7 linked regions of the Homo sapiens genome follow. Changing the gene in region 1 together with any one later gene gives a genetic interaction. Each region holds a gene or a part of one and is shown on either strand. Other genes may lie near its edges. The genes, in order: CAND1, RAB1A, TRAPPC12, UBE2J1, RICTOR, SLC39A3 and SEC24A.

What was found.
Region 2: changes in CAND1 (region 1) and RAB1A together harm fitness more than expected from each alone (negative genetic interaction), as found in Homo sapiens cells (one large-scale study listed by BioGRID).
Region 3: changes in CAND1 (region 1) and TRAPPC12 together harm fitness more than expected from each alone (negative genetic interaction), as found in Homo sapiens cells (one large-scale study listed by BioGRID).
Region 4: changes in CAND1 (region 1) and UBE2J1 together harm fitness less than expected from each alone (positive genetic interaction), as found in Homo sapiens cells (one large-scale study listed by BioGRID).
Region 5: changes in CAND1 (region 1) and RICTOR together harm fitness less than expected from each alone (positive genetic interaction), as found in Homo sapiens cells (one large-scale study listed by BioGRID).
Region 6: changes in CAND1 (region 1) and SLC39A3 together harm fitness less than expected from each alone (positive genetic interaction), as found in Homo sapiens cells (one large-scale study listed by BioGRID).
Region 7: changes in CAND1 (region 1) and SEC24A together harm fitness more than expected from each alone (negative genetic interaction), as found in Homo sapiens cells (one large-scale study listed by BioGRID).

The regions. Positions count from the first base shown.
Region 1 is NC_000012.12:67,300,358-67,303,857, reverse strand, and holds part of CAND1 (cullin-associated NEDD8-dissociated protein 1), read right to left. Parts: intron 1,536-3,500; coding exon 1,243-1,535; intron 1-1,242. UniProt on the Homo sapiens protein: Key assembly factor of SCF (SKP1-CUL1-F-box protein) E3 ubiquitin ligase complexes that promotes the exchange of the substrate-recognition F-box subunit in SCF complexes, thereby playing a key role in the cellular repertoire of SCF complexes.
Region 2 is NC_000002.12:65,120,107-65,123,606, reverse strand, and holds part of RAB1A (ras-related protein Rab-1A), read left to right. Parts: intron 1-3,500. UniProt on the Homo sapiens protein: The small GTPases Rab are key regulators of intracellular membrane trafficking, from the formation of transport vesicles to their fusion with membranes.
Region 3 is NC_000002.12:3,473,694-3,476,879, reverse strand, and holds part of TRAPPC12 (trafficking protein particle complex subunit 12), read right to left. Parts: intron 1-3,186. UniProt on the Homo sapiens protein: Component of the TRAPP complex, which is involved in endoplasmic reticulum to Golgi apparatus trafficking at a very early stage.
Region 4 is NC_000006.12:89,326,125-89,328,722, forward strand, and holds the end of UBE2J1 (ubiquitin-conjugating enzyme E2 J1), read right to left. Parts: 3' UTR 501-2,598; downstream 1-500. UniProt on the Homo sapiens protein: Catalyzes the covalent attachment of ubiquitin to other proteins. Functions in the selective degradation of misfolded membrane proteins from the endoplasmic reticulum (ERAD) and is essential for cells to recover from ER stress.
Region 5 is NC_000005.10:38,938,400-38,941,899, reverse strand, and holds part of RICTOR (rapamycin-insensitive companion of mTOR), read left to right. Parts: 3' UTR 1-3,500. UniProt on the Homo sapiens protein: Component of the mechanistic target of rapamycin complex 2 (mTORC2), which transduces signals from growth factors to pathways involved in proliferation, cytoskeletal organization, lipogenesis and anabolic output.
Region 6 is NC_000019.10:2,734,521-2,737,017, forward strand, and holds part of SLC39A3 (zinc transporter ZIP3), read right to left. Parts: coding exon of another isoform or gene 2,420-2,497; exon of another isoform or gene 6-2,419; intron 1-5. UniProt on the Homo sapiens protein: Transporter for the divalent cation Zn(2+). Mediates the influx of Zn(2+) into cells from extracellular space. Controls Zn(2+) accumulation into dentate gyrus granule cells in the hippocampus.
Region 7 is NC_000005.10:134,721,785-134,725,096, reverse strand, and holds part of SEC24A (protein transport protein Sec24A), read right to left. Parts: intron 1,531-3,312; coding exon 1,427-1,530; intron 118-1,426; coding exon 3-117; 3' UTR 1-2. UniProt on the Homo sapiens protein: Component of the coat protein complex II (COPII) which promotes the formation of transport vesicles from the endoplasmic reticulum (ER).

The sequences.
Region 1 (3,500 bases):
AACAGGTCCTTTTCTTACTTTCCATTTGCTGTTAGAAGGAATCAACCTCACTTCAAATGTAGCTACAAGCAGCAGGGGTATGATTAAAAGACATCTGCTCTAAACTTCCTAATGTTTTGCTAGTCAGTAAAACAAACAGGGTCTCTACTAACAAATCTTACGGATGCAAAGCTATCAACGGAGCTTCTAGAATACCTCAACAGCAAAGCAAGTACAGAGTAAAAACAAAAAGCCAAGAAAAATCCCAACAACCAAACTACATGGACACATACCCTAATTACACAATGATCTAAGAACTAGACAAAACAAAAAAAATGTCTGACTTTCCATAGCATTGTCAGAATTCCTGGCAACTCTACTGAGCAATACCTGACTTCTATATACTCACTCACTTGCATATGTCCTCCATACACTTTATCTCATTTCCTTCTACAATTAATCTTCAACATTCACCTTTATGAGTAAGTTCACCACAAAAATGTATTTATTTGTACTACTTAAAAACAAGATAGATACAGTATGTGTGTCCCGTCCTCTCCACTGGTTTAATCCCTGGCAATATCTGTTTTGTAATCTATAAAAATTGACCTACTATTTGTGCATCCCATAGGGCTGCTGTAGAGATTACATATAAGATAGGAGAATGCCTGGTATGTAATAAATATTCAATAAATGGGAGCATATAATAGCTCTAATGTTTAGGATCTTAGAAAACAAATGCCCTCAAGTGAAAAAATGTGTATTTTATTAGTAAGTACTGGCATATATCAAGCATATATGTAGTAGGCACTACACTGAATGCTCTACACAGATCACCCAGCTCTCACAACCACAGGTAGATATTTCTAAGTACGTTCTTATTACAAATAAGAAAAGTGAGGTTTAATAAAATGACTAAATAACTTGCCCAAGATCACACACCTAAATTAGAAATGAAGTCAGTTATGTGATCGCAAGTAGTATGACTCCACAGCTCTAAGACTTCTCTATTAACATCAAAGATAAAGACTACTTTACTGAATCTTAAAATTATTTAAATATTGTTTATCATGTAAAGCCAAGAATAATTCAATTAGAATAGTTTACAACTAACATAATATGAACATGCATTAACTATATAAACATATCCTAGAACTTTCTGCTTCTCTATAGATATTCTGGAACTCACCTTTCCATATAAAGACAATTTTAAAAGCATTGCATTTACTATCATGATTTTCTAAACTTTACTTTAAAACCCACCTGACTCTGAAGCATTGTTAAAGGTGTTTCTCCCTGCTCCATTGCATCAGGGTCACATAGCCAACTTTGTACAGGACGAGTTTGCTTCAAAAGAGAAAGGTATGCGTGAAAAACATCTGCCTTTACATTCTCTTCACGCTCTTTAAATCTGGATATTAGTGCAGGAGAGACGGTCTTGTAGAATTCTGGAAGCATTTCATGCCTTGTGCTAACTACAGCATCCAAGCACTTCGCAGCTGCACGTCTCACTTTCCAACTCATGTCATCATCATCACTGTATTCATCATCACTCCCTAAGGGTAAGTTTTAATGTAAACAGGCTATTAATGACAAGAGAAGTATATCATTTAAAACAGAAAATCAATTGATATTCTTAACCAAATCAGTTAATCTAACTTTCCGGTAACATATACAGCAACAGGTAGGTTTCAACAGAACTAGAACTTGAACAAAGAGCTTGTTATTTCTGTAAATCTGCACATAAATTAAACTTAAAAAACAAACATAATGGTATTTTTAATTAGTTAAACATTTTCTCATTTACTTTGTAATGAACTGCTGCTTATTTTAACCCTTTAAAATCATCAATTAACACATTCAACTTCTTTAGAATATAAATATTTATAGTCATAAATTTCCCAGCCTTTGAAACAAAATTCAAAGAACTTACTTAACAGCATAGGAAAAATCAAGCAAACAATCAGGGACTTTATAAGACAAACCATGAAATGGATTTGTGGTAATAGAGTAGGTGATAAAAAGAATGGTTACCAATCCCAAAACACTGTAGAACTAATTTGCTGGGAATAAAAAGAAGGTTGACATCAGCTTTGTGACTACAAGGCTTTTCACTCAACTTGTTGATAAGCTGTGAGGAACAAATATGTATATTCTAAACCTTTCACAATTTTGTCTTAATGTACTTTAACAAAACCATTTTTGCTTAATTATACCAAGAAAATGCTGCACACTTAACAGAGGACCATTTTTTCCCCTAATGCTAAACCTTAAACATTCAAAGCAAAAGCACTAAGAATTGTATCTCACTTATCTATACTTGATGGATAACATGTGTGTGAAATCTCCAGAAAATCTTTCTTTCTAACACCATCAGGTTTAATTAGTTGGGTAATATGAAGTCAGAAAGGTGGCAGAAATATTAGCAGTTATCATGATAGTCTAAAATTATCTCACAATAATTTCTTTATTCTTAGATAAGACTATACATAGCCTTGAAATAATAGAGCGGAGTAGTAACTTTTTACTGGCTTTTATTCCAATTAGCTTAGTTTGACAGTCAAATGTAGCCAGCTAGGCCTTAGAAGATTCTACAGTATACAACAAAATAATAAAATTTTCCAACTCAAAAGCTTAAAATTCACCTTAGCACATTACAGGAAAATACAACCAAATACTGCTAAATGCAAGACGTTTGCTTATTTACCAATATCTATTCAAATAAAGTTAAAAGATACTGCCAAAATACACTATCAAGTTAAGAGCACATAAAATTTTTTCCATGTCAATACACTATGGCAATTGCCTCCCAGAAATATAAGCTTTATTAAAAACAAGATTATAAAAAATTAACAAATGTCCTTATTCACTAAAATTACGTTGATTTTATAAATCACAAAAACACCATGGTAGAAAAGTCATTTAATGGGTATAATTCATACTAAGTGATAAAGCAGGTGAAGTACCTAGTTTGTTATACAGCACACAAAAAAACAAAATTCAAAACCTGGAATATACATTGCTACTGCTTTCTTCAAAAGATATTCATATTAAAATATAAGCTAAAGTTTCCCTTCATTAATACAACCCATTTATTGATTGCCTGTGTGTCAAGTACTGTCCTAGGCACTGGAATAAAGCAGTCAATCAAGAGATTAAAACATCTAGCCTTCATGAAACTTATATTCTAATAGGTAGGAGACCATCAATTACAGTATGTCAGAAAGTTACTAAGTGTGATAAACAAAATAAAAACAATAAAATGAAAGATAGTTCTGAGGTGGAAGACTAGCTGAGGGATGTGTGAAAAAGGAATCAGGTATGACTGCAAGGTTTTTGGCCTGATCAACTAAGAAGAATAGAGGTACCATTCTGAGATGGAAAAGGCTAAAGAAGAACAGGTTAGGTGGGAGATGGGGAAGGGGCAGGGAAAAGATATTTTAGATATCCAAGCAGCAATATTAATTAAGCAGTTGCATATGAATCTGGATTCACAAGTGAGATCTGGATTAAAGATAGGA
Region 2 (3,500 bases), on another chromosome or scaffold:
ATCCACCCACCTCAGCCAAATTGCTGGGATTACTTGTGTGAGCCACGCGCCTGGCTTCTACTTGGCTTTTAAAGGGAATTTTGCTTTCTGAGTAATTTTATTTCTCAGGTATCTTGGTCTTTTTAATTCTGGAAGCAATCTTAATAATTTATGTATGTGCCCTGTAATCCCAGCACTTTGGGAGGCCGAGGTGGGCGAATCACGAGGTCAGGAGATCGAGACCATCCTGGCTAACACGGTGAAACCCCATCTACTAAAAATACAAAAAATTAGCTGGGCGTGGTGGCAGGCGCCTGTAGTCCCAGCTACTTGGGAGGCTGAGGCAGGAGAATCATTTGAACCCGGGAGGCAGAGCTTGCAGTGAGCCGAGATCGCGCCACTGCACTCCAGCCTGGGCGACAGAGCGAGACTCTGTCTCAAAAAAAAAAAAAAAAAAATTTACGTATGTGCTAACATCCTGCTATATTCACCTTCCATAGCAATCTGTTGGCTGTGTGTTGTGTATGTGTGTGTTTTCTCTTCTGGGTAGTTTTGACTATACCTATGTGATGGTTTCACTATTTGTAGTTTGAATAGTTCAGTTTTATTTTGGATAGTAAAGAAGAGCTTGCTTTTTTTTTTTTTTTTTTTTTGTCTGAGACGGAGTCTTGTTCTGTTGCCCAGGCTGGAGTGCAGTGGTGTGATCTGGGCTCACTGCAAGCTCTGCCTCCTGGGCTCACACCATTCTCCTGCCTCAGCCTCCCGATTAGCTGGGACTACAGGTGCCCGCCGCCAGGCCCAGCTAAATTTTTGCATTTTTTAGTAGAGATGGGGTTTCACTGTGTTAGCCAGGATGATCTCCTGACCTTGTGATCCACCTGCCTCTGCCTCTCAAAGTGCTGAGATTACAGGCGTGAGCCACCACGTCTGGCCAGAATAGCTTTCTTTTGTGGCAAGCTATATACTTTCCTAATATATGAACATGTTTAGGGTAAAATAAGATGCTTCTTAACGTTTTGAGATTTAAAAAAAATTTGCTAATCAACTTTGAGTGTCTGTTTTTTGAGATATAGGGTCTTACTCTGTCACGCAGGCTACAGTGCAGTGATGCAATCATAACTTACTATAGCCTCCAACTCCTAGCCGGGTTTCAGTGATCCTCCCACCTCAGCCTCCTGAGTAGCTGAGAATACAAGCGCGTGCCACCACACCTGGCTAATTTTTTTTTTTTTTTTGTATTTTTTGTAGGGATGGGATTTCAATATGTTGCCCCAGGCTAGTCTCAAATTCCTGGTCTCGAGATCCACCTGCCTCAGCTTCCCAAAGTGCTGGGATTATAGGCATGAGCCCCACGCTTGGCTGAGTGTCTTAAGATGAAGAAAAACTGAAAATGGGTGTAGTGTGCCAGTGCATGAGGTATTTTAAATGTGTAGCTTACCAGCTTTTTTTTTTTTTTTTTTTTTTTTTTTTTTGAGATAGAGTCTTGCTCTGTCACCCAGGCTGGAGTGCAGTGGCACAATCTTGGCTTACTGCAACGTCTGTCTCCCGGGTTCCAGCATTTCTTCTGCCTCAGCCTCCTGAGTAACTGGGACTACAGGCGTCCACCACCACGGCCAGCTAATTTTTATATTAGTAGAGATGGGGTTTCACCATGTTGGCCAGGCTGGTCTCCAACTCCTGACCTCAGGTGATCCGCCTGCCTTGGTCTCCCAAAGTGCTAGGATTACAGGCGTGAGCCACTACGTTTGGCTGCTTATCAGCTTTTTACCACTTTGTCGCCACTACATTTTGGAATTTTCCTTTGAGAATTAGGCAAAATGCCCAGACTCCCCCCCGGCCCCCGCTTTAGAGGGAGAGGGGAGCAATTAGACTATTCCTTTGTTTCCCTATAGAAGGTGGGGCTGAGATTACTGCTTTGATATCTGGAATGTAATTTAGGGAAGAAAATTTAGGTCTTGGCCTTTCTTTGGAACCACCCTGGGAGTGTTGCAGATTATTAATAGGGTAATGGTGGAATGATATTCAGGGGAAAAATGGTCCTGAGGAGCCAGAGAACTAAGTGTTAGTTTGTTGGCTGACTGAAACATGTGAGAGATAGGGTACAGAAGAAGTAGGAAATAGTTTTCCTTGGTACTTCTGTGACAGGTTGGCTCAATTGGCTGGAACACCCTACACTGCTTTATTAAATCCAAGGTTGTGATAGGTTCCAGTTAAGTTTACTGTGTTCTATGCTTGTAGATTTCCTAATTAGGACAAGTAGTGTTAAATATGCATGCCTTTATTCACAAGAGGGACCATTCTTTTGGAAACATCACTTTTTAATAATACTAGGTGCTATTTAGCACTTACTCGGTGCCAGCCACGTGGCTATGGTTTTTTTTTTTTTTTTTTTCGAGACATGATCTAGCTCTGTCTCCCAGGCTGGAGTGGTGGTAGCACAGTCATGGCTCACTGCAGTCTCAACCTCCTGTACTCTAGTGATCCTCCTGTCTCAGCCTCCTGAGTAACTGGCACCATGCCTGGCTAATTTTTTTTTAAGAGATGAGATGTCGCTATGTTGCCTATGCTGGTCTCGAACACCTGGGCTCAAGTGATCCTCCTGCCTGAGCCTCTCAAAGTGTTGGGATTACAGGTGTGACCCACCTCACTTGGCCATCTATGGTCTTTACATAGGGCATTTTGTGCAGTCTGCGTCTCAAACTAGTGATCTTCAACAGTGAAACTCAGTGAATTATGTAATTCATGTTTTCCAAGAACAATGATGGATTTAATTTCTCTGAATGTATTTCCTTTGTATAATAATAGTACTTAAGTGGAATTACTCTTTGTCCTTTCTACTCTCCTTATAGATATTTTCTGGTATCTTGATTTGGGACTGTTACATTTAACCCATTTATGGTCGTGTAGCCATACTCACGTTACATTTGATGCATCTGCTCCCTTTGTGTCTATATACTCATATAACATTTTGCATAAAGTTATAGGCAGTTCACACCAAGGCTGTTCATGAACCTCAGATTAAGAATACTTGATTTAGGAGATTGAAAACAGAAAAGAGAATGTTAACTATCATTATCAATATTAAAATGTGAAAATCTGAGAGTGACAAAGCTTAGCTTTAAATCTGGTATCCCAAACTCATTTGAGTTTTTTTTTTTTTTTTTTTTTTTTTGAGACAAGGTGTCGCTTTGTCCCCCAGGCTGGAGTGTAGTGGTGTGATCTTGGCTCACTGCAACCTCCACCTCCCAGGTTCAAGTGATTCTCCTGCCTCAGCCTCTGAAGTTGCTGGGATTACAGGCTGCGCCACCACGCCCAGCTAATTTTTTGTATTTATAGTAAAGACGGAGTTTCACCTTATTGGCCAGGCTGGTCTCAAACTCCTGATCTTGTGATCCTCCCGCCTCGGCCTCCCAAAGTGCTGGGATTACAGGTGTGAGCCACTGTTCCCGGCCTAATTTGAGTTTTAAAATGTGGAGTTTAAGATGTTAGTCTTAAAGTGGGTTAGATGAAATTTATAAAAA
Region 3 (3,186 bases), on another chromosome or scaffold:
GAATGTGACAGCGAGCTCTGTTATCATGGCAGCAGCAGAAACTTAACAGAATGCTGTCCTCTGTCTCGATGAGAAACAAGCTGAATGCGCGCGGCTCACCTCCATGAGGAGGGCTGGGGCACCCATCACTATCATACTGAGCAGCCTAGTTAACTCTTAGACTGTCCACGCCAAGCATCTGTCCAGCATTAAAACAAGCCTGCTAACTTCTCAGATGACTGGTGGGGAGATGGTTCTCCATGGGTGTCATGTTTCTGCATGTCTTCCAAGCACAGACAGTGACAAGGCTTTGTTCAAAGCATTTACACAAGGATGCCTGTTTAGAGGACAGCCTTGTAAGCTAAACTGCATCCCTCTGGGGCAAAGGGCAGGCAGGCTCGCCTCCCAGTAGCAAGGATTTGGGTGTTCTAAGTTCAGGATTCCTCTCCAGCCACACAGCCCACTGCAGGCCTCATGAGGCCCTCGGTGAAGACCCTGAGGAATCAGGGCCCCGTGGCTGGTGGGAAGAATGCCACTCTGGCTGTACTGCTGTTGCTGTGTAATAAATAGCCTTCCTCTCTAACGTAGGAATCTTACATTTTTTGCCAGCATCCATGAAAGTGGCAGCTAACTCCACAGCTTGGAAACAGGATAACATCTCAGGCCCTTCACAACTGTTGCTGTTATCCCACAAAAGAAATACCATACGAGGAGGAAGAAAAAACAGAATGAAACAAGAGAAAACACAGGCGTGCACACACACCACACACTGAATGGCATCTGTCCATCGCTGCCCGTCGTCTGCACAGTCCGAAGCCGTTTGAAGTCCACTACTATCGATTTCCCACTTGCGGACTAAAAAGAAACCGAAGGCAGCATGGGCTCCGTGACGCGGCCCTCAGCTCGAACGCCTGCATCTCCTGTCTAACAGGACCGTGTGAGACACTGAACTGAAGATGATTACAGCCCATCATCAAGACCGATCAAGATTAACGTGTGCCGGCGGCCGTGGCAAGCGCTTACAAGCACAGCTCGCCTGACCCTCGCGACAGCCTGGGATGCAGATGCTGTCGCTAGCTTCGCTTTCTAGATGAAGTCGTCGGGCTTGGAAAGATGAGACAATTTTCTGAGGTCACACAGCTAACACAGAACACTGTGGTCAACACCCAGGCTGTCCAACGCCCAGACCGTGTGCTGATCCTCCGCACTGCAAGGCCTCCTGAGGCTGGCATGGGACTTTACTCAATGTCTCAGAGGAAGATAACAGAGAAATCTTGGGATATTCTTTGCTACCCACTGACTTTCCTGATGATTAGAAAGTAACTTGACATTTTCAGAATTATTAAAATGTAATTAGGATACAAAATCCTACCGATTTCTAAAAGTTAGGAGCAACTGAAAAAATTAAACATAAAAATGCAATTAAAAGTATTCCAGAATATGTAGAAAACAAATCAGTAAAAGACACTATTAAAAAGGAAATACAGTGGCTGGGCATGGTGGCTCACACCTGTAATCTCAGCCCTTTGGGAGGCCGAGGTGGGAGGATCGCTGAATTTCAGGAGTTCAAGACCAGACCGGGCAACAAAGTGAGACCTTGTCTCCATTAAAAAAGAAAAGAAAATTAGCCAGGTGTGGCTGTAAGCACCAGGTGTGGCCGTAAGCACTGTGGTCCCCAGCTACATGAGAGGCTAAGGCAGGTGAATCTCTTGAGCCCAGGAGTTCTGCAGTGAATCATACCTGTGCCACTGCACTCCAGCCTGGCAGACAGAGCAAGATCCTGTCTCACAAAGAAAAAGACAAAAAACAGTGTATAAACTAATCCAGAAAAAGGAAGCATAAACAGAAATGTAAAAGTAGAAATAGCTACAGGCAGAACAAGGAAATGGAAATAATGGTAAGAGCACTGTCTTTTACTCTGTGCGAATCCACGAGAAAACAGGGACCAAACAGGTGGCTTTCTAGAAAACTCTCAGTTACCAAAATGGTTCCCAGAAACACAGAAAAATCCTCAGGCACACAACACTAAGGCAGATTCATAATAATAAATTAGGAAAAGCACACAGCACACCTCATGTGCTCAGCAAAGGCAATTCTTAGGTGAATACTCAAACCTTCAGGGAATAGATCATTCCACATTACTCAAGTTTTCCAGAGAGAGAGAAAGCAAGCTTCTAACTTATATGAAGACAGAAAACAGCCACCATATCCTTTTGAGATGTCACCTGTGCACACGCAAACCAGATACTAACATCACTTATAAACGCAGAAACCCGGGGAAACGCCGCCCTGGAGCTCCGACCTTAAGAGCAACACATGGTCAGTGTTTCCGTGGCAGAAACTGGAACTGTGCGCTGGGTCTGGCCCTCCCCTCCTTGGGCGCTGTCAAGGTTAATACTGAGTGTCAATTTAATTGAAGGATGCAAAGTATTGATCCTGGGTGTGTCTGTGAGGGTGTTGCCAAAGGAGATGAACACTTGAGTCAGTGGGCTGGGGGAGGCCGACCCGCCCTTAATCTGGGTAGGCACCATCTCTTCAGCTGCCATCACAGCCAGAATAAAGCAGGCAGAAGTTGGAAAGAGCAGACTTGCCGAGGTTCTGGGACTTGGACTGGCTTCCTTGCTCCTCAGCTATTGTGGGACCTCACCTTGTGATCGAGAGTCAATTCTCCTAATAAACTCCCCTTCATAGATTCATCTATTCTATGAGTCCTGTCCCTCTAGAGAGCCCCAACTAATACAGGCACTGAGGGGTGGGGGAGAGCTCCAGTTCTCAGCTCCTTCACCTGCTTCTCTGTCACAGTTTTGGGATTCCTCATCACCTTGGTGGCACGGAAGCCATTACAGATGGGCAATGGCCATTTTAAAGTGTTCTCAAGGCGGAGTGTCCTGCAGTCCATGGCTGTGAGCTGTTGACTGGAGAGGAAGGCAAGAATGATTCTTCTCTGTGGTGTGGGAGTCAGATGATTTTAAACCATCCAAAGACAGAACAGCTATGTTAACAGCCACATAGGTTGCTAGATGATATTAAATCTGTAGTCAGCTAGAAAACCCAGTTCTTTTCATATTTACCACTGATCAACTTTAGTCACAGAAGCATAGGTCTGCAATTGATACAGAAAACTCATTTCAGCTGGGCCCAGTGGCTCATGCCTGTAATCCCAGCACTTTGGGAGGCAGAGGCAGGAGGATTGCTTGAGGCCAGGAG
Region 4 (2,598 bases), on another chromosome or scaffold:
ATTTTATAGTTTTAACTCTTACATTTAGGCCTTTGATCCATTTTGAGTTAATTTTCTTATATGGTGTATGAGGTAGTGGATGGTATAACTTTATTTACTCATTTTTCTCAGGGCAGGGTATAGCCCCAGTGGATCGAGGTCAGAGCTGTGGGAAGGCCCCAAAGGCATTTGCTGAGGTCTGATTATGCCAGACACCTAGGTGGGACTCTAGTCATGCACAGCCTTGTGCTTTATGTTAAGGGTTTCACCCTATCTAAGAGCAACAGGAGAGAAGAGATCAGGTCTGTATATTGAAAACTCTGGCTGCAATGTAAGGAATGGGGTGAGACTAGAGACCTGTTAGGAGGTTACTGCACCAATTTGGAGGAGTTAATAGCTAAATAGGATATAGTGCCTAGTTAGGGAAGTGGAAAGATGAGAGAGAAATATTCTAGGAGGTAGAATGGATGAGAGACAAGACTGGATGATGTAAAGAATACAACCTTTGGTCAAAAACAAGGTATGAGTAAAGTCACTGGTTTTATTGAGCAGCTCAAACTAGTTCTGAAGGCAACTGTTCAGAAGGCGTTCCCAACAGCTTTTGAGCAATGCACAGCCTCCCATAAAACCTTAAAAAGTACATCTGTTAATGTGCACATTAGTCTTTGTTAGTCACGTTCACTAAATGCATTAACCTTACATATACTTCCAATTAAAAAAACACATAGGCTTTTCAGTATTTTGGCCTAGATTTTTGTTCAAATGAGTCCAAATGTGTGAGTGAGGTTTACCTGTTTTCTGATTCTGATCTATAAAAATGGGTGGTCTCAAAAGACCAGAAAGTTTATTCATAGCCAAAAATGACAAAAAGAGTTCTTATTCTCCCAAAATAGGAAATTTTGTATTCCTATAGTCAAAACAATAAACAATTTTTGAAATTAAAAAAGTTGAGAATCTTGAAATTCATTTTTTTCAGTAGAATAAAACAATAAGCAGCATGAAAACGTAAAGTGCTACATAAAAGCCCCACATTACATAAATTTTGAAAAGTTTATTGGCTTAAACAGTTACAGGTGAAACAGATTACGTATTTTTTTTTCAAGCATGCTATTTTAATTACCTTGATATCTCATCATGTGCTATGTTGGTCAAATAAAATGTCATGAGTTATCTAGATCTGAGGATTAAAGAGGAGTCCTCAGCCTTTACTTGCCAGAATATACATCCAGTTTTAGCTGTATGCTGGAATTAAGGAGTTAAAGTAGGGCTTTAAAGATAATAGTTTTCTGAAGAGGCCTTTCAGTGGGGCTTGGACAAAAAGGGCCCCAAAGACCAATTTTGCTCATTAACCTCACACTGGGGATCAGATTGACAACTTAAGGATTTTTAGGGAGCATATGTGAGATCAAAGGGAAGAAGAAAATGGTGCCCCTTTCAGATGGTGCTTCAGGTGCTAAAAAATATCCCAACACAAACAAGCAGGTGGCTAGCTGACAGGTGGGGGAAGAGATGCAAGTCAGATAGCAAAGGATCTGCACAGTGCAAAATCTTCTTGGCTTTTTATTTAACTTAGCAGTGAATGCAGCAGGATTGGCTTAAAGTATAGGTACACCCCATGGAAACATGCAATAAGATCACATCGATCCAGAGGCTGGCTCAAGTTTGACTGAGGGGAAACGGAGGGAAGGCTGTTCCTAGCACACAATCTCAGCAGAGGTTGAGGTGGTGGGGATTTCTTTCTTCTCATATGACGCTACCGTCGGTGACTTCTTACTAGGAGACCACTGAGCACTGAATCAAGGTTTCTAATATGTTTCAAATCAAGATTTTAGAGTGTATTTTCTTATGGCAATAGAGTTATAAAATGGTAACCTATGATTTTCCTCATATAATGAGATCTTCATAAAGTCCTTGAGCTTTTTAGACTTTAACAAATTCAGCTACAGATATAAAAAATAATCTGTAAACACCTTTAAAATGCGAATTTATTAAAGTTTAAGACAATTCTGTATTATATAATAGTGTACAATATGTTCTTATTTTAGATGTAGAAATAAAGGAAAACTGGCTCTCAGATGAAAACAGAAATTGTGTCTGACAGTTAATAGAACGAATGTCCCATAAACAGGAGTAAAAATTAAATTTTCCTTTAAGACGATTTTACAATTATTTCTCTTGTCCATAATTTCACTTAGTTAAAACCACATAAGGACTTTATGAATACCCTCCCCTATACTATTCAAGATATACATATGGGCTAACTTTCGTGGACCGATCTAGAACCTAAATACCACTTCCAACATTGTTTGACTTGTAAAAAAATTAACTTACAAATAACACTTTTGGAGCATAACCTATTTGAAAGCTTGGAACCACCTGTATTTAAAAATTAAATCTTCATTAACAACACCCTCAAGAGTGCCCTCAGTGCTGCGAACTGAACATGCTGAAGGCAATGTTTTTCTGTGATTATATGGTTTCACCAGCCATTATGATGATAATATTATCTACTAGAGTCTGTGGCGCTAGCTAGCACTAAGTTATATATTGATTTTTCCACTGAAAATTCTTTCTTGGGCTCTGACTAGGTGGACAATTCTAAGTAAAGGTTTTTCTAAC
Region 5 (3,500 bases), on another chromosome or scaffold:
TTGTTTGTTAACTAACTTGTGGAAAGCAGGAATCAGTGTCTCTAAGGCTGCATCCTATTACCACAATGGGGTGTGCTATAACTGCTGGTATTAGAGAGGGAACTTTGGCCCTTTCACGTTTTTCTTAATGTTTGTAACACTACTTCAGAGGTTTATAACCTCAAAGCAGAAGAAGAGCCTCAACAACCCGGGACTTATAAGTTATTTTTATGTTACTAGACTTGCATAAAGATTCTTGTTTTCCAACTCTTCATTTTGTTGCAATGTGTTATTACAGGATATATGAACCAATTAAGGTTTTTCACTACAGTTCTTGAATAAAATTTAAAAATCATTTTTTATTTTAATTAAAAATATTTCCCATTTATAGAATGCATATATTTGCAATGGACTTCCACTTTCATCAACTTTCCATCTCATCGCTTTAAACAGGAACTTGAACAAGCACTGTTAGTTTAGACCTAAAGGATAGGAAAGCATTAAATAATACTTTGGATCTCCTGAGGAAAAGATAAGTTTGCTTGCAATTTACACATTCCATGGGGAAAGAAGAGCCATATTTCCTTAAAAAAAACATTAATAAAGCTTGTTATTGAGAAAAATTGTAGTGAAAAGCCTTAAGTACCAAATTTTAAAGCAGCAGTAACTTAATTTTTATATCAGTGTTTTTGTTTTGCACAAACTAAATGCAGTGGTAGGTGGGTTTATGAGTATATTAATTGCCTTTATCCATTTGTGAAGTTAAGTTGATGAGGGCAAGGTTTTTGTTTGTTTAATTTGTATATGTCTAAAGGTATTTGGAACTTTTTACAGGAATTAAACATATATGCAAATTTGTATATAAAAATAGCATGGCCATCATTTGAATGCTTGTAAATGAAAGGATTATCTTTTTTGAGATCTATATATAAATAGAAATAGAAAATCCAGCTGGACTGATTAGGATTCTTTTTTAATTCATTTGTGTATAACATTTTTATTACAATTACACATCAGTTTTGACACAGTCATAGCAACATTAATATTTTCCCATGATGCAGATCCTTTTTGTAATGGGCTTGTTCTTTGAGATCTCTGTAAAGAACCCTGTGAACTAGAAAACATAACTCACAGAGATACTTTTTTAAAAAATTTATTTACTGGAACTGAAAGTTCCAGTTGGGATGAAGCATTTCATCTCACTTCATAACACCTCTTTGACTGCACTTCAGTGAATTGTTCTTATGTGCACTGTGTAGCAACTTACATTATAACAAAGCAGATAAGGGCTGTAAGCTGCTGCTTATGTTGAAAAGTGGTTCTTCAGATTTTCTCTCATAAAATCCAGTTGAAGATAAATAATTTTTTTATACTTTATCACTGAACCCAAGTGTTTATTTAAATGTCAACAGTACTTCTAAGAACGTTGCCTGTCATCGTGGTCTTTGGTCTTGGATAACTAAACTGCCTTTCCAGAGAACCAAATGTCAGAGTTACTAGACCAAATAGTGGTTAAAACCTCCAAAGGAAGTAATGTAATCTTATTCATAATGGGATTAACATATTTTAGACATTCATTTTAAACACTACCTCAGTTAATATAGAGTATAAAAATCTGTGGTTTAATCCCTCAAAAGTTAACAGTAATTTTTTTTTTGTCTTACACACACACACACCCCCTCCCCCACCATCACTATCCCTGTACCCTCACCTTGGTCATCTATCCTGAAATAAGGCTTAGTTAGTATTGGCCTGAATGTTTTGTGTTTTTTTTTTTGTTTTTTTTTTTTACTGTTACTTTGAAAAATATGTATGTATACCTTATCATATCTGCCTATATCACTTACTTTGGGGAGATACTCAGAGCTTTGTGGTTATCAGTATACTAAAAAAAAAAAAAAGTCTACGCTTAAATTTATAGTGCTATTTGGTTTCTCCATGATTTCACTGACAGGTCTAATACATTTTCTTTGAGTACTTGTTTGTAAAAAGTAGACTTTATGGTGAAAAATACATGCAGTGCCAAGTGATTAACTTAAGTGTTTAAAAATATTAAATTATAGCAGAAGAGGTTAGGAATGATATCAGCAGTAATAGAAATAATTGAGAAAATCATCTATAAATAATAGATATTACAGACTATAGAATACCAAAATAATGTCAATACTGTAGTTTTTAAAGATTTTAGGATTAATCTTAGTCCATATAAATTTGTACTATTGGTAATTATTGAATAATTGGGAGGAATCTGGGCAGTTGTGCTGGTTGTAAACTATGAATTTCTAATCGTAAAGTGAATTGTTATTTCTAATTGAACTTTTTTTCAAGAACAGATTTCAGCCTCACATACTAAGTAAATACTGATAAATAAGGAAATTAGAAATTTAGTATTCATAATTAAATATGCTCTAAAATTTCCTATACTTTTATTTCCTGTTTATTCTTAGGTAGATTGGAAGGGGGAAACAGTCTGTTCTCCCTAATTAAATTTTTTCTAATAACGATTAGTAGAATATGGACATTCTATATGACAGTGACATTAAAAGAGGCTCTTTGGAAGTATATACATTATTAACATAATGTGTACAAGTCCTTTTGAAATGACAACTTTAATGGGTTTCAGCTCTTTTATCTAGAGCTTGAGATAATTCAAGCTGAGTTTTTCAGGGCATATCACAACGGCCAAGTGTTCAGCAGTGGGATATCAATGCTTATTTACATTTTCCTACTGCTATTTATATAAAATGTTATTCCATTCAGAGGATGCCTTTTATCCCCACATTAAAGCACAGATCATTAAGCAATAAAAACCAAATTGTCTGTCATTCAAATTATAACTGCAGTTATTTTTGCATGGTAAGAGTGAGGTGCTAATTTTGTGTGAGATGAACTTTGTAAACTACTTTGGGAAATGTTCTTTGGAAGTAAGGTTTTTTCTCCTTTAGTCTTATGCTTCCACTTTTGTCTCAGATTCACAATCCATTAAAACATGGGGAAAAAAGAAAAGGTAAAATTGAGAGACTTTTGTTAGAGGAGCTATTTGGAATGAACCAACATTTCAGATTTTCCAAAATGTAAGTTAGGAAGTCTCCATTGTCTCTGCATTAACAAAATACACTGTTACTATCTTAATCTCAAGAGTGTCATTACAGTGAGAATCTCATTTAAAAGCATACCAGTGAAATTAATAGCAGTGCTTATCAAAGAACACTGAAATCTGTGAGAATCTTTCTAGGAGCATTCTTTTCTTCTTTTAGTTCCAAGTTCCAGGGTATTTTTCATTCCTAGTAGGTTTATATGACTCACAGAATGTGGACTTTTTTCCTGTTTGGAGTATTTTTGTAATGTAAGTATCGGATAGCTGCACCACAGCATGCATAAATTGCACATTTTGTTTTACTTTCTTTATAGAATATTTAATTTCAAAAATATAATTTATGCCAAAAAAAGCATACCTTTCAATTTTGCTACTTGGTTGATTTAGCACAAAATGCAAAGTCTTGGGGCAGAGAGGGGGAGTG
Region 6 (2,497 bases), on another chromosome or scaffold:
GGCAATGTCTGGAAACATTTTTTATTTTCACAACTCGGGTAGGGGGAAGGTGCTGACATTCGGGGCTGGATTGTTCTCTGGGACGGGGCCGTCCTGGGCACTGCAGGGTGCTGCTGAGCAGTGTCTCTGGCCTCCACCCACTCCAGGCCAGGAGCACCCCCCATCGTGACAACCACAATGTCCCCAGGCATCGCCCAGTGTTCCCTGGGGGCAGTTCACGCTGGGTGAGCCTCTGCTGCAGCAGAAGGCTGTGTTTCCACGGAGAAGCCACTTAACTCCCTCACTGACCACCGGCTGGAGGCCTCATGCATGCCTCGCTTGAGGACAAGCTCATGAGGAACTCTAGCTACTCCCAAGAGACAGACGTTGATCAGGAGAGATGAGGCAGATGCACGGGAGCTGTGAACCAGGCACCATTTTCCAGGGGTGACTGAGAGCCTGGCCCTGCAGTGGGTGAGGCTGGGGGCTCGGGAGTAGGGACCTCATCCGCCTGACCAGCCCGAGGACAGGAGAACGGCGGGAAAGGTTTGGGTGCCATGAGAAGGCCACTGTGATGAGGGGGAGGGAAGAGCAAGCTCCCCGCAGTCGCCCAGGCCTGCAGTCAGAGGGTGACGGGGGTGACACCATGACCATGGGGGAAAAGGGGGGCTGGCAGTGGCCTCTGCGATGCAGGAGATGTCAGAGATGACCAAGATCTCCATCCTCGCAGTGCAGATGTCAGTCTTCACACACCGCGTAACGAACGAATGCAGACTCAGCCACGCGGAACAGCAGGAATGCGGTGTCTCGGCTCTGAACGGTGGAAATCCAGGTGCGGGCTAGCTGGGCCCTACGCTCCAGGTCTCGCAGGGTGTCATCAGGGCTGAGATCTCACTGACACCCAGGGTCCTCTTCCAAGCTCACTGGAGGTCGGAAGAGTCCACCTCCTGGTGGCTGTGGACTGAGGCCCCGTGTCCTGGCTGGCTGTTGGCGGGGATGGCTCTTGGCACCGAGAGGCTGCCCTCGGGTCCTCGCTTCATGCCCTTCTCCTGGCACACCCTGGCTTTTTGCTTCTCCAAGGCCAGCAGGAGGGTGAGTGGCTCACCTGATTAGGCCAGGCCCACCCCCTCCCTTTTGATGAACTCAGCGCTAACCGATCTGGGGCGGTCATCACAGCTGCAACATCCCCTCTGCTGGGATTCTGACATAATGGCAGGAGTGACACGCACGGCAGTCCCAGCCCTACCCACACTCGAGGGGAGGGAAGAGCATGGGGCGTGCGGAGCAGGGGCTGGAAGCTCAGGGAGCCACCCTGGAACTCTACTCTGCCACACTAACAGGCTCAGATGATTTAATCCCAGACAACAGCCCTTCTCCTCCTTTCTGGACACTAGGCACGAGGAAAAGCAGGGCCAGGGGTTGGGGGATAAGCTTAGGGCTTCCATGCTTTCGTTGGGAGGAAGAACAGGGGGTCCTCATATCTCCACCAAGTATGTAACCAACACAAATTCAATGTCACATCTGGCACTGGCCCAGAGAGAGGAAGCCACTCACCCAGGGTCACCCAGCAAGCATGGCCAGGGCTGGTCACACTGTGGCCTGACAGGGGACCCACACTCTGGGCTGCTGATATGGGGGAGCTCAAGGAACAGGTCAGCAGAGGATGATGCTGTCAGGAGTTGGGGTGGACAGACTCCAAGATGGCCCCAGAAGCCCCTGCCTCTTGACAGCCATACCCTGTGAGGTCCTGGCCACTTGAGTATGGGAAGGACTTGAACTTGCTTCTAACCAGCAGGACACTGGGGCAGAGGGGAAGGGATACCCTGTCACCTCTGCATGACATGGGACTGTGCCCTCTGTCTTACACAGAGTCATGGCCATCTTCTCCATTTGCTGATGAAGGAACTGATCATGCTGGGGAGGTCCACGTGGCCAGGCTCTGAGGGCTGCCCCAGCCAACAGACACTGACAAACAGACACCTTCGGTCTGACAACCAATGAGGAACTGAACCTGGCTTACAACCACATGAGCTTAGAGGCCGACCCATCCCCGGTTGAACGTTGAGATGAGACCACAGCCCAGGAGACACTGTGACTGCTGCCTTGTGAGCTCCTGAAGCAGTGCCCAGACCCCTGACTCACAGAAACTGTGAGATGATAAACGTCTGTAGTCCTAAGGTGCTCAGTTTGCTATAATTTGTTACGCAACAGTAGCTGACTGATATAGGAACCGAAGAGAGGCCATGCTTTCCAGCTTCAGGACAGAGTGTGCCCTACCTAGGTGGGTAGTCTGGTCTGATTATCAGGTGACAACCGACAAGTCCACCTGTTGGGAATCCCAGGTCTGGTCCAAACCCCTTGTTTGGCCGGTAGAGCACAGAGACAGAAAGTAACCAGTTCACAATCACACAGCAAATTCACTTCCTACTTTCCGTCACCCTTACAGCATCAAGGCCTTCACTGAACTTGGCATCAGTGTTGAAAATGCATCAGAGTCCCTTGGCCATAAGGTGCCAAG
Region 7 (3,312 bases), on another chromosome or scaffold:
ATTCATTTATTCACTTGTTGCTGTATATGCAACAGGAATTCATAATATGATAATGCAGATTCTGTTCTGTCTTCTATCATGTTTTGAAGGAAGTTTGCTTTCATTGGACTCTCATCCCTTAGGAATAAAAGGCAAAAAAATTTAGATAAAATGTAGCAGTAAAATAGACTTGTCAGAAGGCTTTTGATTTCCTCATAACCCTAATAACATTTACTATATAAACAGTTACTTCTAGAGGCTTTCTCTGAGAATACTTGGTTGATTATGTAAATTTCAAGTTGTTTAAGGGAAAAGCTTATGGTGGAATTAAGAGAAATAGTTGATCCAGAAATTCCATTTCTGAATATATATCCAAAGGAATTGAAATCAGTATATCAAAGAGATGTCTGCACTTCCATGATCACTGCAGCATTAATCACAATAGCCACGATATGGAAATAACTGAATGGATTTTTCAAATGTGGTATATATATACAATGGAATTCTACCGAGCCTTTTTTTTTTTTTTGAGATGGAGTTTTACTCTTGTTGCCCAGGCTGGAGTGCAATGGCACGATCCTGGCTCACCACAACCTCCACCTCCTGGGTTCAAGCTATTCTCCTGCCTCAGCCTCCCGAGTAGCTGGGATTACAGGCATGTGCCACCATGCCAGGCTAATTTTGTATTTTTAGTAGAGACGGGGTTTCTCCATGTTGGTCAGGCTGGTCTCGAACTCCCAACCTCAGGTGATCTGCCCGCCTCGACCTCTCAAAGTGCTGGGATTACAGGCATGAGCCACCGCGCCCGGCGACTTCAGCCTTTAAAAAACAGGAAATTCTGTCATTTGTGACATTATGCTGAGTGAAATAAACCAGGCACAGAGAGACAAACACCACACGATCTTACTTATGTGTGGAACCTAAAAAAGTTGAACTCATATAAGTAGAAAGTAGAATTATGGTTATTAGAGGCTAGGAGGCAGGAAGTGGCTATGGAGAAGGAAAGAAGAAATGTTAGTCAAAGGGTACAAAATTTCAGTTAGGATGAATGGATTCTGGTGATCTATTACACAGTATGATGACTATGGTTAATAATGATGTATTGTATATTTTAAAATAGGCAAAATAATGGATTTTAAATGTTCTCACCACAAGGAAACAATAATTGGCTGAGAAGATGAATATGTTAATTAGCCGAATTTGATCATTCCACAATGTATACATGTATCAATAAATTAGTGTACCCCATAAATATATACACTTATTATTAGTCAATTAAAAATGAAAAAAGTTCTGTATTTCCAATCATTGGATATAAGGTATGATTTACTGCTATTTATTGAGAAGAACTCTTTTTCTTTCTTCTTTTTTTTTGCTATACTCTTGTCAGGTCCTGGCAAGGCCAAACAAATTGTTTTACTACTAGCAAATGGAAAATTCAACTTACCTTATTACATAAAGTATTGGGAAAAATGGTCTCTGCTCTCTAAGCCAAGAGATGAAAGCTATTATTCTGGCAGATTCTGGTGTATCAAGTTCTGGAAGGTCTGTCTGTTAACCAAAACCAACAATATCCAATTACTTTAATTACATATCTAATGTATGGTCTATGGTACTTTTCAAATTTTTATTTTTTTAATTACATTTTTTTTCTTTTTTGAGACAAGGCCTCTGTTGACAGGCTGGAGTGCAGTGGCATAATCATGGCTCACTGCAGTCTCAACCTCCAGGCTCCGGTGATCCTCCCACCATAGCCTTCTGAATAGTTGGGACTACAGATGCGTGCCACCATGCCTGGCTAATTTTTATATTTCTTGTAGAGATGGGTTTTGCCATGTTGCCCAGGCTGATTTCGAACTCCTGGGCTCAGGCGATACACCTGCCTCGGCCTCCCGAAGTGCTGGGATTACAGGAGTGAGCCACAGTGCCCGGTCTACTTCTCAAATTTAACTTATTTTTTGAGACAAGGTCTTGCTCTGTTGCCCAGGCTGAAGTGCACTGGTGTGATCATGGCTCACTGTAACCTCCACTGCCTCCTGAGGCTCAAGTGATTCTCTCACCTCAGCCCCACCAAGTAGCTGGAATAAGAGGCGTGTGCCACCTGCCAGGTAATTTTTGTATTTTTAGTAGAGACGAGTATCTCACCACGTTGCTCAGGCTGGTCTTGAACTCCTGGGCTTAAGCAATCTGCCCACCTCGGCCTCCCAAAGTTCTGGGATAACAGGTGTGAGCCACCATGCCTGGTCTTGAATTTTAACATGTATATGAATCACCTGATCATCTTCTTGAACTACAGATAATGATTTAGGAGGTCTGGGGCAGGGTTGTGGTCCTGAGATTTTGCTTTCCTAAAAAATTCCTGCAGTGATGCCAGTGCAACTTGACTTGGGAACACAATTTTCTACGAATATTCTAGAACAGGAGTAGGCAAACTTCTTAAAGGCCCATATAGTAAGTACTTTAGGCTTGCAGATCATTTGGTCTCTGCTGCAACTACTTAACTTTGCCATTGTTTTTTATTTTTTGAGACAGAGTTTCGCTCTTGTTGCCCAGGCTGGAGTGCAATGGCGTGATATTGGCTCACTGCAACCTCTGCCTCCCAGATTCAAGCGATTCGCCTGCCAGAGATTCTCCTGCCTCAGCCTCCAGAGTAGCTGGGAGAGTAGTTGGGATTACAGGTGTGCGCCACCACACCCGGCTAATTTTGTATTTTTAGTAGAGATGGGGGTTTCTCCATGTTGGCCAGGCTGGTCTCGAACTCCTGACCTCAGGTCATTCGCCCACCTCGCCTTGAGACGGGGGTTTCTCCATGTTGGGCAGGCTGGTCTTGAACTCCCGACCTCAGGTGATTCGCCAGCCTCGGCCTCCCAAAGCGCTGAGATTACAGGTGTGAGCCACCACGCCCGGGCAACCTTGCCATTGTTACACCAAAGTAGCCATAAACAATACATAAGTGAACAGGCATGGATGTTCCAATAAAACCTTATTTACAAAAACAAGTAGCAGGTACCCCTTGGGCATAGTTTCTAAGCCCTCATCTAAAAAAACCTCTTAGTTCTTCCCTTCATTTTAGCATGACGTCAAGAATTAATTGATTCGTTCAGTTATTATTAAAAATATAACAATTTCTTACTCATTACCTAAAACGCTTAGTCATCCAGCCCAGTAGTTCTGTTTAAGGCCTGAAAGCCAGTGCTTATCCTAGCTATAATCCTGACACAGCAGTCTTTTATTTATTTATTTTTTGAGACAGGTTCTTGCTCTGTTGCCCAGGCGGGAGTGCAGCAGCATAATCACTGCTCACTTCAGCCTCAACCTCCCAGGTCCTAGCAC